Regions from separate parts of the Homo sapiens genome. Here region 1 is linked to region 2. The links come from fine-mapping of genetic effects on gene expression. Tissue or cell type: whole blood. Region 2 holds a variant in brackets; the other region holds the start of a gene. All regions are shown on one strand. Distances are from middle to middle.

Region 1 (8,000 bases), 51 kb after region 2:
GTAGCCATGCTCTGGGGCAGCAGAGCAAGTAGGGATGTATCTGTCTCCCCCACCTCCAGCCCAAGGACCCCGGAGGGACCCTGCCAAGCAGCCACACCCTGCCAGGCTGGGGAGGGCTTCCCTCCTTCCTGGAACAGGGTCTCAATTTTTACAGGAGGAAGCAATTTGCAGAGCCCACTAGGAGGGAGGTGGGGGCCCCTCCACTCTCTCCCCACCCCCCGCCCTGCTTATTAATGTGCTTCCAATTTGGGACTGGAGATTCTCTGCCCCTCCTCCCCACACTACTTGGGAAAGGGGCTTTCTCAGGGAGCAGAGGGGGTTGGGATAGTCCCCCCAGGCCTCCTTCTGCAAAGCTCATCTCATCTGTTGTCACGCTCCTGCTCCCTGAAGCAGTATAGCGGGTAGGAGGGTGGAGACTCAGCCCTCAAGTCCCCTGTAGAGAGAAGGGCCCAGTTTCCAGACCTCCCTTCACCCCCTCCCTGGGACTGACTTATCTCCTCATCTTGTCCTGGTCCCAGGGTGGGAATCTCAGGTATCCAGTGAGAGACAGACTATAGGGGGTCACTGGGTTTCTCAGTTCTCAGTTACCATGCCAGACTCCTGGTACTCTGGGTCGCCCACTGGGCTCCCACCAGCCACTCAGTCAGTGCCCTCATGAGAGTCACGGTGTCATCTAAGAACAAATAGGTTTCCTCTGCGCCCTTCCTCTCGCTCGCATACACAGTTGCGTCACAGCCACTGTCCTGCTCATTCACTGTTACCCGCATCTCTCTCCTGCTGGGTTTTTAAAAATGTCTTTATTGTGATAAAATATACATAACATCAAGTTTACCATTTTAGCCATTTCTAAGTGTACAATTGAGAGGCATTAATTACATTCCTTCTTTGTTTTTATCAGTGTCTTTCTCATTGTCTTCCACATAGATGCCACACGTCAGGGACCACAGGCCCCCAAAAGCATCCCACAGAGCCTCCTACACGCCCTGCCTGGCACAGCCCTGGGGGTGTCACCCACACTACCCGAGAGTCCCAAACACGCTCAGATAGTGACCACCCACCCACAGCGCCAGCATCAGTCACGCCCCACGGTTTCTCTCACATACGGTGTCGCTTTCTGGTGCTCAGTGTCACCCACACACCGCATACCATATTCATGCTTGGCACATGTCGGATGGGGCCCACCTTGCTGGTACACACATCATACTGACACAGAGCTGGTCATGTTGTTTTACTCGCATGTAGTGTCACATGTAAGTCACACACAGACAAACCTGAGGCCATCTCACATGCTGCGTCACAACATGCAGGTCACAAGTGGTCACACCACAGCGTAACACATCACACAGATCGCCACTCATCCGGCTTCTCACGCACACGCGCCCGCGCGCTCACATACACACAGCATCGTGCGAGTGCGGTGTCCTTCACACGCAGGTCACTTGAGCATCAGAGCCACACCCAGTGTCATCTCCAGGTACACACAGATGGCTAGGCAGCCAGCTTCCTTCATCGGCACATCCTGGGTGATGCCCTGGCACACACAGAACATCCCCCATGCAGGTTCTCAGGTACAGAGGTGGCGGCACACCTGGACACATGAAGAGTCACCCAGTTTCTCTTATGGACGTGTATATCTGTCACACACACGAATGTCACAAAGCCACAGTTTCTCTCCTGCATACACCCAGCCCTGCACAAGTTGCTCTGACCAAGGTTCTCTTCCACACACATCCAGCCCCACAGAAGACAAGTCTCACCCACATAGAATGTCCCACTCATGGCTTCTCTCACACACATCCAGCGTCACACACAGTTGCATTCTCATTTCCCTCTAACACTTCCTGCCCTTTCAGGCCTGGCAGGGAGCACAGGAAACAATCGGCACTCTAGGAAACCCCAAGGGCTGAGGCTTTAGGGATGTGCAGGGGGATGAACCTCTCTGGCCCTAACCTCAACCTCCTGTGGGTCGGGGAAGACAGGCAGAGCCCTTTCCCTGGCAGGGTTCTCCCTGGAGGGAAGTGGCCCCTTCTGCAGACAGCCCAGGGCTGGCACAACACCAGGAGGGGAGGGGAGGGAAGGCAGGGCAAGGCCCCAGGGACAGTGCCGAGTGTGACCTGCTGACCTCCCCAGCTCTACCCAGAGGCAGATCCTCAGGGCCACCCCTGGGACCCCACAGCTTCTGCAGCCCCCATGTGGGAAGAAGAGGCTGCGACCTCCTAGCCCCTTCACAGAAAGCTGCAGCGTTTAGACCCCTGGGCTCCTCTCCCCATCCTGGGCGGGGAGGAGGAGGAGGGCAGGACCAGCGATTTCCACACTGAGCCCTGGGACCCCCACAGGTGTCTGGGAGTGGGGCAGAGGGTAGAGCCACCCAAGCGGCCTCTGAGCACCCTTTGTGCCATTCAGCCCTAACAGAACCCATGACCACTTCAGAGGCAAGATCCCCCAATCCACCAAGCCCCCCTGTCCCTTGACACCTGCCCCCCGCCACCTTTTCAGCCCTGTTCATCTGGCTGAGCTACTCCTCAGTCACCCCTTGGTTTGTCCTTGCCTTCTTCTTTGGGCCACTGGATCACCCACCCGCCTCTCCAGACCCCACCAAGTTCAGGTTCCATCATGGGAGAAGGAAGGCAAACTGGGAGACAGACTCTGGGAGGAGCTCAGAGAAAAGGGACTTGAGAAGTCATTCATTCCAAGCAGGGAAACTGAGGCCCAAAGGGGCCTGCCAAGATGGCGCAACTGGTTAAAGGTCCGGAGGGGACCAGATCCCTATTTCTTGACCACCTCTGTTGAGATATCTTCTCCTTTGATATTGTTGAGAATATCAAATCCTCCCGGTTTTAACATTCCTTCAGTTGGCAGAAAGTGCCAGGGTCTACAAACCTTTGGGTGAGGATGGGAGCAGGGCTCAGGACCCATGTGATGCTTCTGTACACTTAATGTGCTGCTCTGTCCTGGCAACCACTGACCACTCTAACAAGCCATTCCCCAGCCCAGATGCGCTCATTAGCATTAATGACGTTCCCTCCCTGGGGGGGTAGGGGAAGGCCCAAGAGCTTGGGACTCATACTGGCTCCTACCCTCTCCCTGAGGAGGGGGCATCCAGGGCCCCTGAAGTTACCCTTACTGGACAGCCTTGTCCTGGAAGATCTGTGCACTCTGCCCACTGGGTGAGCAGGGACCCAGAAGACCACAGAACCACATCCTTTAGGGAGTGCCCCTACGAGAGGGGTCTTGGTGGGAGGGGGGCTACAGGAGTCTAGAAGGGAGAGGACATAATTCCCCCAAATCTCCAACTTTTGAGGAAAGCCTCCCCTCCTTGCCCCAGGTGGCCCCAGCACTGGGGTGGAACATGTGTACAGAGAACCAGGCCACAAGAGACTGGATACGCAGAGCCGCTATGGGCACCAGCCCCTCTGAGCTGTGTCCAGCCCCTACCCCTATGCCCTGTTCTTCCGGACAACAAGTCCAGGCCTGACCTGGTTCTGCCCCTACCTGGAAAGAGGGAAGACACAGAAGAAGACAGCCCCTGAGAAGTCCGCCCCAAGGCCTCCTTCCCCCTCGCACTGAAAGAATCTCTCAGCCCTGGATCAGGGCCCCTCACCAGGAAAGTTGACAGAGCGGGGTCTCAATGACACTGCCCCAGGGCCCAGCTGGGCTGGAAAACAGATCCAGACCAGCGCTCCCAGCCCTCCCTCCCCTAGCAGGAATAAAGGGCATGACAGACAATGGTGGGGACCGGGGTAGGAAGCGGGAGACCAGCCACCCTCAAACCTTGTCAAGTCTAAACAAGGGCCCTGAGCAAGTGTGGGGAAGAAAAGGCCCCAAATCCAGACCCCTCCGAGCCAAGCTCACAGCGCTCAGGGCTGGAACTCTGAATCAGCACCCCGACGCAGGCGGCAGAACTGAAGGGAACGTGAGCCCCTCCCTGCCTCTCAGGGGACACACGGCCGGGGCGCGCGGCTTTGGTCCCAGACACCCTCCACAACCCAGCGCAGCCGCGGCACCGCGCGCAGAAACCGGCCTGGGCGCTGGGAGGCCGGGCCCGAGGCCTGCGTGGAGCTGAGGCCGGGCGGGCTCCGGGAGCGCGCGGGCCGGGAGTCCAAAGGGCGGCGGGGCCCGGGACTGGGCGCCCCGGATATGAGCTCCAGGGTGGCAGGCAGGCCCTCCACACTGTGCGGCCCCCGGATCCCCGCCCCGACCCCCCAAGCACGGACGGCGGGACAGGCGACGGCACAGGGGACACGGTCTCCCCGGCTTCCCCACCTTCCCGGACCAACTCGTCCCCGTCGCGGGGGGGTGGGGAGGGCGGGGGGCGGGGCTTCCCGGAGAGATTTTCCCCCTTCCCTCTAAACTTCCCGGCACCCCGATCCGGGGCTCCAGCTCCGGCTGGACAATAGCTCGGGGACCCAGTCCCCCTCGAGTGTCGCCCCCCCAGCCAGCCCAGCCGACCAACCAAACCACCTCTCCCGAGCGGGGCCTCCTCCCGGCGTCCGCCCGGCTTACCTGGTCCGAGCTCGCGGGGGCGCTCCGGCCGGGCCGCTCCGCCGGGCCCGAGGGAGCCGCAAGGGGGGCCGGGGAAGGGGGGTCGTGGGGAGGGGGCTGGCCGGAATGTGCGGAATGAGCCGGGCTGGAGCGGGAGGCGCCGAGCGCGGAGGAGGGAGCGAGCGGGACGGAAAGTTTGTGTTGAGGAGCCGGGGCGGGGGTGGGGGCTGCGGGAAGGAGGGGGCGGGGCGCGCAGGGGGCGGTGCTGGCCGGGAGGGGCGGGGCCGTCCAGCCGCGCTCGGGCCGCCTACCCCGCGGCCTCGCGACCCGGCCACCCCGGCTGGCGCGCGCCTGGGCGCCCCGCTCCTCGCCCGCCCGTGCGGAGCTGCCTTCCTCCCCCTGCGCTCCGGGCCTCGCCCCGCTCCCGGGCACCCGCCGGAATTTGGGGCTCCGGCCTGGGGCGGGGCCGAGGGCGGAGCCCTCGCCTCGCGGGCAGGGCTCCCGTCGGTGCCGGGGGCCGTGGGTGCCGCGTCACGAGGAGCCCGGCAGAGCCGGAGCGCACGGGCCCCGGGGCTCCCGGCCCCTCCACCCTAGTCCCGAGCCGCCAAGGCGGAGCGTACCCTCCAGCTCGCGGGCCTGCCCCCCACTCCCGGGGCCCCAGACCCGGCTCCGCCCTGGCGGCTGCGCCCGCCCTGCCGGGACCCGGTTTGTCTGGTTCTCCCCGCGTGGCTAGTTTCTCGAATTTCTTCTCCCTTTCTCCCTCTTCCCCGACCTCCGGGACCCTCCCTTTCGCCCCGGCTCCCCGGGCCCCCACGGGGGGCGTCTCGACGCTGTGCGGCCGCCGAGTTTCGGTAGGACCCGCGACGGGCGCGGGGAGGGGACGCGGGAGCGCCCGGGGCCTGGGCAGGAGTGGGACGGGGGTTGAGACTTCCAGCTCGCGCCTCGGACGCCTCCTGCCGCCTCGTTCTCCGCACGCGCTGAGGAACCACCGCTCCGCTTGGCCAAGGACGCGGCTTTATTGGGGATGTGGGTGCCTGGCCCTCGTCCCCCATCACCTACCCCCTCCTCCTAGCCCGCCCCAGCTCCTCGGAGCCCTAGCGCGGTCCCGGGGAGAGGGGAGGTTAAAACAACAATGACTACTGCTCCCGGACAGGAAGTGACTGGGGCGCGGGGAGGAGGGGGGCACAGCGGCGCAGGCGAGCTCCGAGACCAGATGTGCGGCTCCAACTCCAGATGTTCTTCATCTCCGTCCTACCCGCCGTCCGGGCTCCTCCTGCCTCGGCCTGTGCCAGGCTGGGGAGAGGACGGAGGTCACCGAGAGGCAGTGAGAGGTCAGCCCCGACACAGGAGCAGTTTTCCGCGGGAGCTTTGCTGGAGGGACCCTGCCAGCCTCCACTGAATCCTTTCCCCCACGCTGACGGGCTCTGGGGGCGCTGAGGGGCTGCTGGGGTCACTCGCAGGCCAGCTTCCCGTCGAAACTGGAGAGGGCGATGGCGAAGGCCTGCAGGGCGCACAGCGGGTACCGGTAGTCTAGGGTGAAGGCGTCCTCCGCCACGCGGCCGAACTGCAGCACGATATAGTCGGCTATGGACACAAGACGGGGTGGGGGCGGCCCGAGACCTCCTTGGACCCCCATCCTGGCAGACAGTGCCCTCAACCTTGGGGGCAGTCTGTCCCTTGCCTTGGGGCTCCAACCCTCAGCCACCATCTCAGTTACTCAACACCCATCCCTTCTTCTATCTCACTCCACACCAGCACCACGTGGCTTTGCAGTCACACTATAATCTCCTGGGGGCAGGGACCTTGCCTTTCTGCTGCTGCCACAGGCCATGCCTAGAGCCCGCACCTGATTAACTATAGGACCCTGTCAAATTTATCCAAGCCCAGCATTCTTCCTTCCCAAATTCTCTGTTGTTTCTGGCCACAGTCTTTCCTCCTATCCCCAGCCACGAAGTCCCACCTTAGACCCCAGCTCCACCCCTTGACTAGCCCCTGGTTCCCTTCCTCAGCCTCACTGGGCACCTCTCCCTTCAATGATCCAGGTTCCCAGCCCCAACCTCAGCACCTCCCCCAGGATCCATAGGGACAGGAAGTTGCTAAAAATACCCCCAAACTCAGGTGGACGAGGCTCCACCAGAAACGTGATCTGGAGAGCAGTCCCACAGCCACAGGACAGGTGGCACTGGGGGCACATCCCTAGGATGCAGTTGGGGCTCGCTCAATGTTGGTCCAACCCTGTGAACCCAGAGACTTATGGGAGATACCCTTCCATCCCCAAACTTCCTCACCCTAGTGGGAAGGAAGCCTTTCCAACCAAGGCTTGTAACAGGGACACCTTGTTTCCCTGAGTCTTCCAGGGTAGTCCTTTGACCTCACTTGAGAGAAGACACAGAGTAGGCACTCAAAAATGCTTAATATTCCCTGCCCCTAAAAGGCAACCATCTTGAAGAGATTAAGAGCATGGCCACTGGAGATCCAGACTGTCAGCTCTACCTCCTACTAGTGATGTGACCGTGGGCAAGTTGCTTAACCTCTCTGTGCCTTAGTTTCCTGCCAAATAGGGATAATAATGGCACTCTTCACAGGGACGTTGAAGGGATTTAATGATTCAGTTATCTGTAAAATCCTGAGAACAGTGCCTGGCACATAGTAAACACTGTGTAAGTTTTGTGAAATAAATTTCGAGGGCCAGTGTAACTTCCTGAAGTTGCTGAGAGACTCTGGGCAAAGGGCTGCCCTCTCTGAGCCTCAGCACTCTCTTTGAACAAAGAGGAGTTGGGCTGTCCGTGGTTTTCAGACTCTAGGAGCCAACCCTCCCTTCAACACAATCTTATCCAGAATGTCCCAGTATCTAACCCACTGCTCTGGCCAATGCTGGAATGGGAACCTGAAGTGATGAGCCCCAAGACACCTGCTTAGAATATCTGAGGCTCCTGAGAGCACAGTGTCAGTGCCTATGGAGGAGAGAGTGACCCTGTGGGATGTCCCAGCTCTCGGGATAAAGGCTGGTGTGTGTGTGTGTGAGGGGGTGAGGGGAGCTTGAATGAAGGTCAGCATCCTGGGGGTGGTGGAGAAGAGCCAGACCTGGGCCCTCAGGTACTCACGGTCATCAGCGTGGACAATCTGGAAGTTCTTGACTGAGGCCTGGGTGACCCGGCCTTGGAAGTTGAGGGTGTAGGAGCCACTGTCATCGTTCCAGACAGGTGGCTTGTTGTGCAGTTCTATGAGGCTCTCCAGCGTCTTGTTCTGCCAGCGCACCAGCAGGCCGTCACTAGCCTGGGGTGCCCCAGGGGAGTAGACAGGGAGAGGACAGTTAGAGATGGCTGAGATGGCTCAGGACTGACCGGAGAAGGGGCCTGGGCATGTGTGCACAGGGGTGTGGCCTGGACATCTTCATCCATTAGGGTATCTGAGAATAGGCTTGGCATCTGTGGCATCCTTGTGGACAGGGTTCACATCTGTGAGAATGGGGCTTTGTCTCTGGGATGTCAAAGCGGAGGGCTGGAAAATGGCAAGGG
Region 2 (8,000 bases):
TGGACACTGAGGAGACTCTCACTAAATGCTTGCCCACCTCATCCTCCCCTCACCCTTCTCTACCTCCCACCTTGATTCCTCAGAGGAGGAGGGAAAGGGGGCGGGAGAGGGGAAGTGATAAGAGAAGTGATGGCAACAGCTGTCATTTACCCAGGGCTTGCTATGGGCCAGGGACTTTACAGACAGGGTCTTAAGTTTGACATCACCCCAGGAAGTAGGTCCTACTATTATCCCCATTTTACGAATGAGAAAACTGAGGCATGGAAAAGTTAGGTGACTTGTCCAAGCTTACGTAACCAAAAAGTAGTGTTACTAGGCAGAACTGGCTATATAATTTGTGGGACCCATTGCAAAATGAAAATGTGGGGCTCAAAAACTATTAATAATTTCAAGACCGGGACAGCAGAGTATTAATGCAAGTGTAGGGCCCCTGTGTGATTGTATAGGTCCCCACTGGTGAAGCCAGTCCTGGTGGTAGAATGTGAACCTAGAATTCTGACTCCAGAATCCACAACTCTACTTTTGGGGAGAGTAATAGTGATCACTGTGATCACCAAGCACCTGCTATATGCATTGTGCAAAATCTTTTTTTTTTTTTTTTTTGAGATGGAGTTTTGCTCTTGTCGCCCAGGCTGGAGTGCAATGGCACAGTCTCAGTTCACCGCAATCTCTGCCTCCTGGGTTCAAGCTATTCTCCTGCCTCAGCCTCCCAAGTAGCTGGGATTACAGGCATGTGCCACCACACCCGGCTAATTTTGTATTTTTAGTAGAGATGGGCTTTCTCCATGTGGTCAGGCTGGTCTCGAACTCCCGACCTCAGGTGATCTGCCCGCCTCAGCCTCCCAAAGTGCTGGGATTACAGGTGTAAGCCACCAGGCCAGGCTGATTGTGAAAAATCTTAAAAACCTTTACAACAACTCAGCAAGGGCTAGGCATTGTTACCACCCACCCCCCCTTTTTTTATTTTGAGATGGAGTTTCACCCTTGTTGACTGGGCTAGAGTGCAGTGGTGTGATCTCGGCTCACTGCAACCTCCACCTCCCAGGTTCAAGCAATTCTCCTGCCTCAGCCTCCTGAGTAGCCCAAGGTGCCTGCCATCATGCCTGGCTGATTTTTGTATTTTTAGTAGAGACAGTGTTTCAATATGTTGGCCAGGCTGGTCTTGAACTCCTGACCTCAGGTGATCTGCCTGCCTGTGCCTGCCATAGTGCTGGGATTATGGGCATGAGCCACCGCATCCAGCCTGTTACCCCACTCTTAAGAGTGAGGAAACCAAGCTTTAGAGAAGGTGAGTTACTCACCTAGTGTTCCCAGTGGGGTCAGGATTTGAACACCAGATGAATTCCAGAGCCTGTGTTGTTCTCACCGTATCAGACAGCCTCTGTCTGTAAGGATCACAAAGGCAGGAACTAAAACAGGGCTGGGCATGACTTAGACAATCTCTTAGGAACTTTGTTTTCCGGGCCCATCGCTGGGGGTCAAGGCATCGCTTTGCTCATGATGGAAAGGTGTCCCAGGTCTGCAAGTACTTCCAGCAAGGCTTCTGCTTCCCTGGACATCGTGGAGATCAATGCAGGTAAGTCCCTCTTCTTCCCCTCTGGGGAGTGGTGTTAGGGTGGGACACTAGAGAGATCGTCCCTTCACAAATCATGTATCTTCCCAGAGCTGCTTCTCCCAACTCAGCTCCAAGTTCTAGGCTGAGCTGGCTCTGAGCCCCGGAGGGCTGTCCCTGTCTCCTCACTCTCTTCTTCCCCACTACAGCTGTCAGCACCCAAAGACCCCCAGCCCCCTGGAGTGGGGTCGCCGCCATTCGGAGCCACATGTCACTCTGCCAGGGCCCCACCTAGGACTGGCCCGCAGGGGATCCGAGCCCACCTACCTGCCCTCTGTGGCTGTGGGCTGGGGCTGGGCCAGGGCCTGCTGGGGCATGGAGCCTGCCCTGGAGGGGCTGGCTAGCAAGGCTGAGGAGGTTGGCGGCAGCTCCTGGAAGTCCCTGCCTTCATCATGTGAGTCATCAGGGGCACCGCAGGTGGGCATAAGTGGGCACTGACACTAGAGCTCGTGCTCTGCCTCTGAGCAGGGTTTATGTTTTCATCCATTCCCCTTCCTCTTCAAGATTCCCAGCTGGAGGGAAATTTTCCTCTAGTTCTGTTGCTTTGTGTGTTCTAAAAGCAGAATACCATGGTACCAACAGAGTAAAACCCCCTAGTTCCAAATGCCCTATCCCTATACCCAGTAGCTGTGTGATCTTGGACAAGTCACTTAACCTCTCTGGGCCTTGGTTCCCTCATCTACAAAACGGCATTGATAATAATACTTAACTCACAGGCTTATTTTGAGGGTTGATATGCTTAGCACAGTACCTGGTACAGAGTATGCACTAAATGTTAGTGGCTATTTTTTATTTTATTTATTTATTTATTTGAGACAGGGTCTCCCTCTGTCACCCAGGCTAGAGTACAGTGACGCTATCTCAGCTCACTGCAACCTCCGCCTCCAGGGTTCAAGCGATTCTCCTGCCTCAGCCTCCCGAGTAGCTGAGATTACAGGCATGCACCACCATGCCCAGCTAATTTTTGTATTTTTAATAGAGACGAGGTTTCACTGTGTTGGTCAGGCTCATCTCGAACTCCTGACCTCGTGATCCGCCTGACTTGGCCTCCCAAAGTGCTGGGATTACAGGCGTGAGCCACCGTGCCCGGCCTGGCTATTTTTTAAATTATTGCTCTAAATCAATGTTATTCAGAATATAAAGAAATTTAAGTCACATATGTAATTTTTTATAACAGCTTTATTGAAATATTCACAAACCAAAAAATTCATCAATTTATACAATTCAATGCGTTAATTCACAAAGTTATGCAAACATCACTGCTACCCAATTTTAGAACATTTTTATCATCCCATTAGCAGTCAGTTTCATCCTCCCCGCTCCCAGCCTCTAGTATCCACTAATCCACATTCTGTCTCTGTGGTTTGGCTGTTCTGGACTTTTCATATGAACGGAATCTTACAATATGTGGCCTTTTGTGTCTGGCTGCTTTCATTGAGTGTGAAGTTTTCTAGGTTCGTCCATGTTGTAGCACGTATCAGTACTTCATCTTTTTTTTTTTTTTTTTTTTTTGAGACTGAGTCTCACTCTGTCGCCCAGACTGGAGTGCAGTGGCACAATCTCGGCTCACTGCAAGCTCCGCCTTCTGGGTTCATGCCATTCTCCTGCCTCAGCCTCCCGAGTAGCTGGGACCACAGGCGCCCACCACCACACCTGGCTCATTTTTTTTGTATTTTTTTAGTAGAAACGGGGTTTCACCATGTTAGCCAGGATGGTCTTGATCTCCTGACCTCGTGATCCGCCCGCGTCGGCCTCCCAAAGTACTGGGATTACAGGCATGACCCACTGCGCCTGGCCTATTTTTTATTTTTGATAGAGACAGAGTTTGCCATGTTGTCCAGGCTGGTCTCCAGCTCCTGAGCTCAAGTGATCTACCCACCTTAGCCTCCCAAAGTTTTGGGATTACAGGCGTGAGCTACCGCGCCTGGCCCTATTTTCTACTTATAGCAGGTGTCAACTCAGACTTGCCCCATTTCAGTTGCTCAAGAGCCGCATATGGCTCTTGGTTACTGTATTGAACAGCACTCTTCTAAATGGCTATAGGAGAGGCTTCTTTTTTTTTTGAGTCAGAGTCTCGTTCTGTCTCCCAGGCTGGAGTGCAGTGGCACGATCTTGGCTCACTGCAACCTC[C/T]GCCTCCTGGTTCAAGCGATTCTTCTGCCTCAGCCTCCTGAGTAGCTGGGACTATAGGCACATGCCATCACGACTGGCTAATTTTTGAATTTTTAGTAGAGACAGGGTTTCACCATATTGGCCAGGCTGGTCTCGAACTCCTGGCCTCGTGATCTGCCTGCCTTGGCCTCCCAAAGTGCTGGGATTACAGTCTGTTTTTTTTGTTTTTGAAATGAAGTCTCCCTCTGTTGCCCAGGCTAGAGTGCAATGGCATGATCTCAGCTCACTGCAACCTCCGCCTCCTGGGTTCAGGCGATTCTCCTGCCTCAGCCTCCTGAGTAGCTGAGATTACAGGCACTCGCCACCACACCTGGCTAATTTCTGTATTTTTACTAGAGATGGTTTCGCCATGTTGGCCAGGCTGGTCTTGAACTCCTGACCTCAGGTGATCCACCCACCTCGGCCTCCCAAAGTGCTGAGATTACAGGTATGAGCCACCGAGCCTGGCCTATATGAGAGGCTTCTAATTCTGACTGGTCTCTAATCCACTTGGGGGCAGGACGTGGGTTACCACAGAGTCTTGCATGCAGGAAATGCTCAGTGGTTGCCTCAGGGGTGAGTGAATGGATGCAGTTTTCCCAACAGCTGCTGACAGGGATCACGGCCACTCCCAGGAGTCTCTGCCAAAGTTCCACCTTGTCCGAGAGCTCATGGCGCCACTTCAGAGCCTGGACCTTGAGGTGCAGCAGGTTGTGGGTGAGGGGTGGCAAAAGATGGCTTTCTGGCCCTCTGGGACACCCAGATCTGCTGGGGGAGGGCTTGGTGGCCACTGAGGCTGAATGTGGGCATGCGGGTGGAGTGTCTGACCCTACCTGTGGCTGCCTGGGAAGCAGGACAGTCGGGATGTGGTGTGTGGCATCTGCATGGACAAAGTGTGGGACAAGCCAGAGGCCCAGCGGGTCTTCGGCATCCTGCCCAACTGCACCCATGCCCACTGTCTGGGCTGCCTGCGCACCTGGCGGAAGAACCGGCAGGACTTCCCGCTGGATGTCATCAAGTCAGTGTCATGGGGGTCCCAACAGGGATGGAGGGAAACACCCCAGTGAGGAGGCTGGCCTGGGGGCCTGTGACTATTCTCCCACATTCTACTCCACTGCTCAGGGCGTGTCCACAGTGCCGTGTCCATTCCAGCTACATCATCCCCCACAAGTTCTGGGTGAGCAAGGGGGCCCAGAAGGAGCAACTCATCAGGAACTTCAAGGCTCGGACCAGGTGAGGCTGCAGAGGGAACGAGACTCAGGGTTAGGGAAGTGGAGAAGGTAGCCCCTGATTCATTCTGGTTCAGCCATGGTTCCCAGCCAGTGAATCCCCAAAGCCCTGAAGTTTAGAGTGACCAAAATGGCAGGTGAAGGCATGAACTATTTTCATGATTTCAGAAAGCCCAGTTAATAAGGCCAGGCATGGTAGCTCACACCTGTAATCCCAGCACTTTGGGAGGCCAAGGCGGGCAGATCACCTGAGGTCAGGAGTTCAAGACCACCTGACCAACATGGTGAAACCCCGTCTCTACTAAAAATACAAAAATTAGCCAGACGTGATTGCAGGCGCCTGTAATCCCAGCTACTCGGGAGGCTGAGACAGGAGAATCGCTTGAACCCTGGAGGTGGAGGTTGCAGTGAGCTGAGATTGTGCCACTGCACTCCAGCCTGGGCAACAAGAGTGAAACTCTGTCTCAAAAAAAAGGAAAGAAAGCCCACTTAATAAACGGAGAGTGGCTGAGATAGCAGAAGGAACACCAGGGCCAATTTTCTCTTCTAACTTGGCTCAGAATCAACTTAGAGCAACTCTGGTTCTCTCTGCACCATGAGAAGCCTTGCTTTGGCTTTTATTTCCAATTTGTCATAAGGCAGGAAAGTAAACTGATATGAATACATGTTATTTGCTTAGCTGCTCTTTGAAAACATGGGGTGGCTGAGAAGGGGGCTGAAAGGCAGCCTTATTGGATAGGTCTGAATCTCTTGGGGAGGGTAAGCACTTATTCAAAATCTGGAATTAGCTGCAATTCCAAGTTCCTAACTCCACCTTCCCAAAGGGTTTACTACACTTGATCTATGCAAAGTGTATTTGGGTAAAGGGAGGGATAAAGAAGGAGGCCTCGTCTTCACCCAGGAGATAGTCAGGCGTGTTCTGGAGACACCTGTGAACGCTAATAGCTGCATCAACAAAATTACTGAAGGAAACACTAACTCGAGTGACTCTTACAGAAGGGGAAGTATTTAAGCTGTGCATGGGAAGAACAGGGTTCCTCAGGAGGAGAAAAAAGAGGGTGTCCCAGGCAAAGAGAGATGGAAGTGAGGAAATACAGTTGACCCTTGAACAACTTAGGGGTTAGGGGCACCGAACCCCATGCAATCGAAAATCCATATAGAATGTTGTTGTTGCTGTTGTTGTTGTTGAGACAGAGCCTCGCTCTGTTGCCCAGGCTGGAGTGCAGTGGTGCAATCTCGGCTCACTGCAGCCTCAGCCTCCTGGCTCAAGCAATCCTCCCCAGTAGCTGGTACTATAGGCGCGCACCACCATGCCTGGCTAATTTTTGTATTTTTTGTAGAGACAGGGTTTTGCCATGTTTCCCAGGCTGGTCTTGAACTGCTGAGGTCAAACGATCCACCCGCCTCAGCCTCCCAAAGTGCTGGGATGACAGGCGTGAGCCACCACACCTGGCCATGTATAACTTTTGACTCCCCCAAAACTTAACTAATAACATGCCGCTGACCAGAACCCTTTCGGACAACATAAAGTCAATTAATACAGATTTTATATGTTATATGTATTATATAACATAATATGTATTCTTACAATAAAGTGAGCTAGAGAAAAGAAACGTTAAAATCATAAAGGAGAAAATATATTTACTATTCATTAGGTGAAAGCAGATTACCATAAACGACTTGATCCTCATTGTCTTCACATTGAGTAGAAGGACGAAGAGGAGGGAATTGGTTTTGCTGTCTCCAGGATCTTGTCTGCGTATAAGCTGCCCCAGGCAATTCAAGCCTGTGTTGTTCAACAGCAACTGTACTGGCAGCTGGGCCACCAGTTGGAAGTTTCCCAAGGGGAGCGCTCAGGACTGGATGTGATAGGAGATGGTGTAGATGGAGGTTTATTGTGTGACAGGCTTTGTATCTCGTAAACTGCATGAGGCAGGGACTCTTACTATCCTCATACTGTAGAAGAAGAAACTGAGGGGCTGGGCACGGTGGCTCACACCTGTAATCCCAGCACTTTGGGAGGCTGACGGGGAGGAACTCTTGAGCCCAGGAGTTGAGACCAGCCTGGGCAACATGGTGAAGCCCCATCTCTACAAAAAATATAAAAATTAGCCAGGCATGATGGCACACGCGTGCAGTCCCAGCTACTCAAGAGGCTGAGGCAGGAGGATCACCTGAGCCCCAGGAGGTCAAGGCTGCAGTGAGCGTAATCATGCCATTGCACTCCAACCTGGGTGACAGAGCAAGAACCCTGTCTCAAAAAAAAAAAAAAAAAAAAACAAAAAGGCCGGGCACGGTGGCTCACACCTGTAATCCCAGCACTTTGGGAGGGCAAGGTGGGTGGATTATCTGAGGTCAGGAGTTTGAGACCAGCCTGAGCAACATGGTGAAAACCCGTCTCTACTAAAAATACAAAAAAATTAGATGGGCGTGGTGGTGGGTGCCTGTAATCCTAGCTACTTGGGAGGCTGAGGCAGGAGAATCGCCTGAACTTGGGAGATGGAGGTTTCAGTGAGCCCAGATCATGATACTGCACTCCAACCTGGGCAACAAATGTGAAACTCCATCTCAAAAACAAAAAAAAGTCTGGTATAGTGGTTCACACCTGTAATCCCAGCACTTTGGGAGGCTGAGGTGGTTGGATAACCTGAGGTCAGGAGTTCAAGACCAGCCTGGCCAATTTTGTGAAACCCCACCTCTACTAAAAATATGAAAATTAGCTGCACGTGGTGGCATGCACCTGTAGTCCCAGCTACTCGGGAGGCTGAGACAGGAGAATTGCTTGAACCCCAGAGGTGGGTGTTGCAATGAGCCGAGATTGCACCACTGCACTCCAGCCTGGGTGACAGAGCAAGACTCCATCTCAAACAAACAAACAAACAAAAAACCCAAAAAACAAACAAAATAAACCAGAAAAATGAAAGGAGGTTCCCAGGGCCGCTGCTGTTGCTGGCTCAGAGACTGAGAAGTACAGAAAGGGGCCCCTTAAGATACTTTACTGCCATCTGCTG

Evidence for each region. PIP is the estimated chance that this variant, and not a neighbour inherited with it, causes the effect.
Region 1: TEAD3 starts here. The variant in region 2 is fine-mapped to the expression of TEAD3 in whole blood (TOPMed, PIP above 0.99).

Annotation. Positions count from the first base shown.
Region 1 is chr6:35,492,395-35,500,394 of GRCh38, forward strand. It overlaps TEAD3 (TEA domain transcription factor 3), which reads right to left and starts at 4,685. Exons shown (of 13, transcript NM_003214.4): 1 at 4,504-4,685. TULP1 (TUB like protein 1) reads right to left here. Exons shown (of 15, transcript NM_003322.6): 14 at 7,587-7,758; 15 at 5,480-6,066. The coding sequence ends at 5,933. It overlaps LOC124901309 (a long non-coding RNA gene), which reads left to right and starts at 5,739. Exons shown (of 2, transcript XR_007059561.1): 1 at 5,739-5,813. RefSeq lists enhancers at 1-432, 1-503, 2,929-3,714, 4,661-5,591, 5,592-6,521 and silencers at 4,493-4,542, 4,723-4,852, 4,863-5,192.
Region 2 is chr6:35,441,597-35,449,596 of GRCh38, forward strand. It overlaps the pseudogene MKRN6P. Among named protein-coding and RNA genes, the nearest start is that of FANCE, 6.7 kb to the right of the region's middle. The variant C/T (reference allele first, on the strand shown) is at 3,743.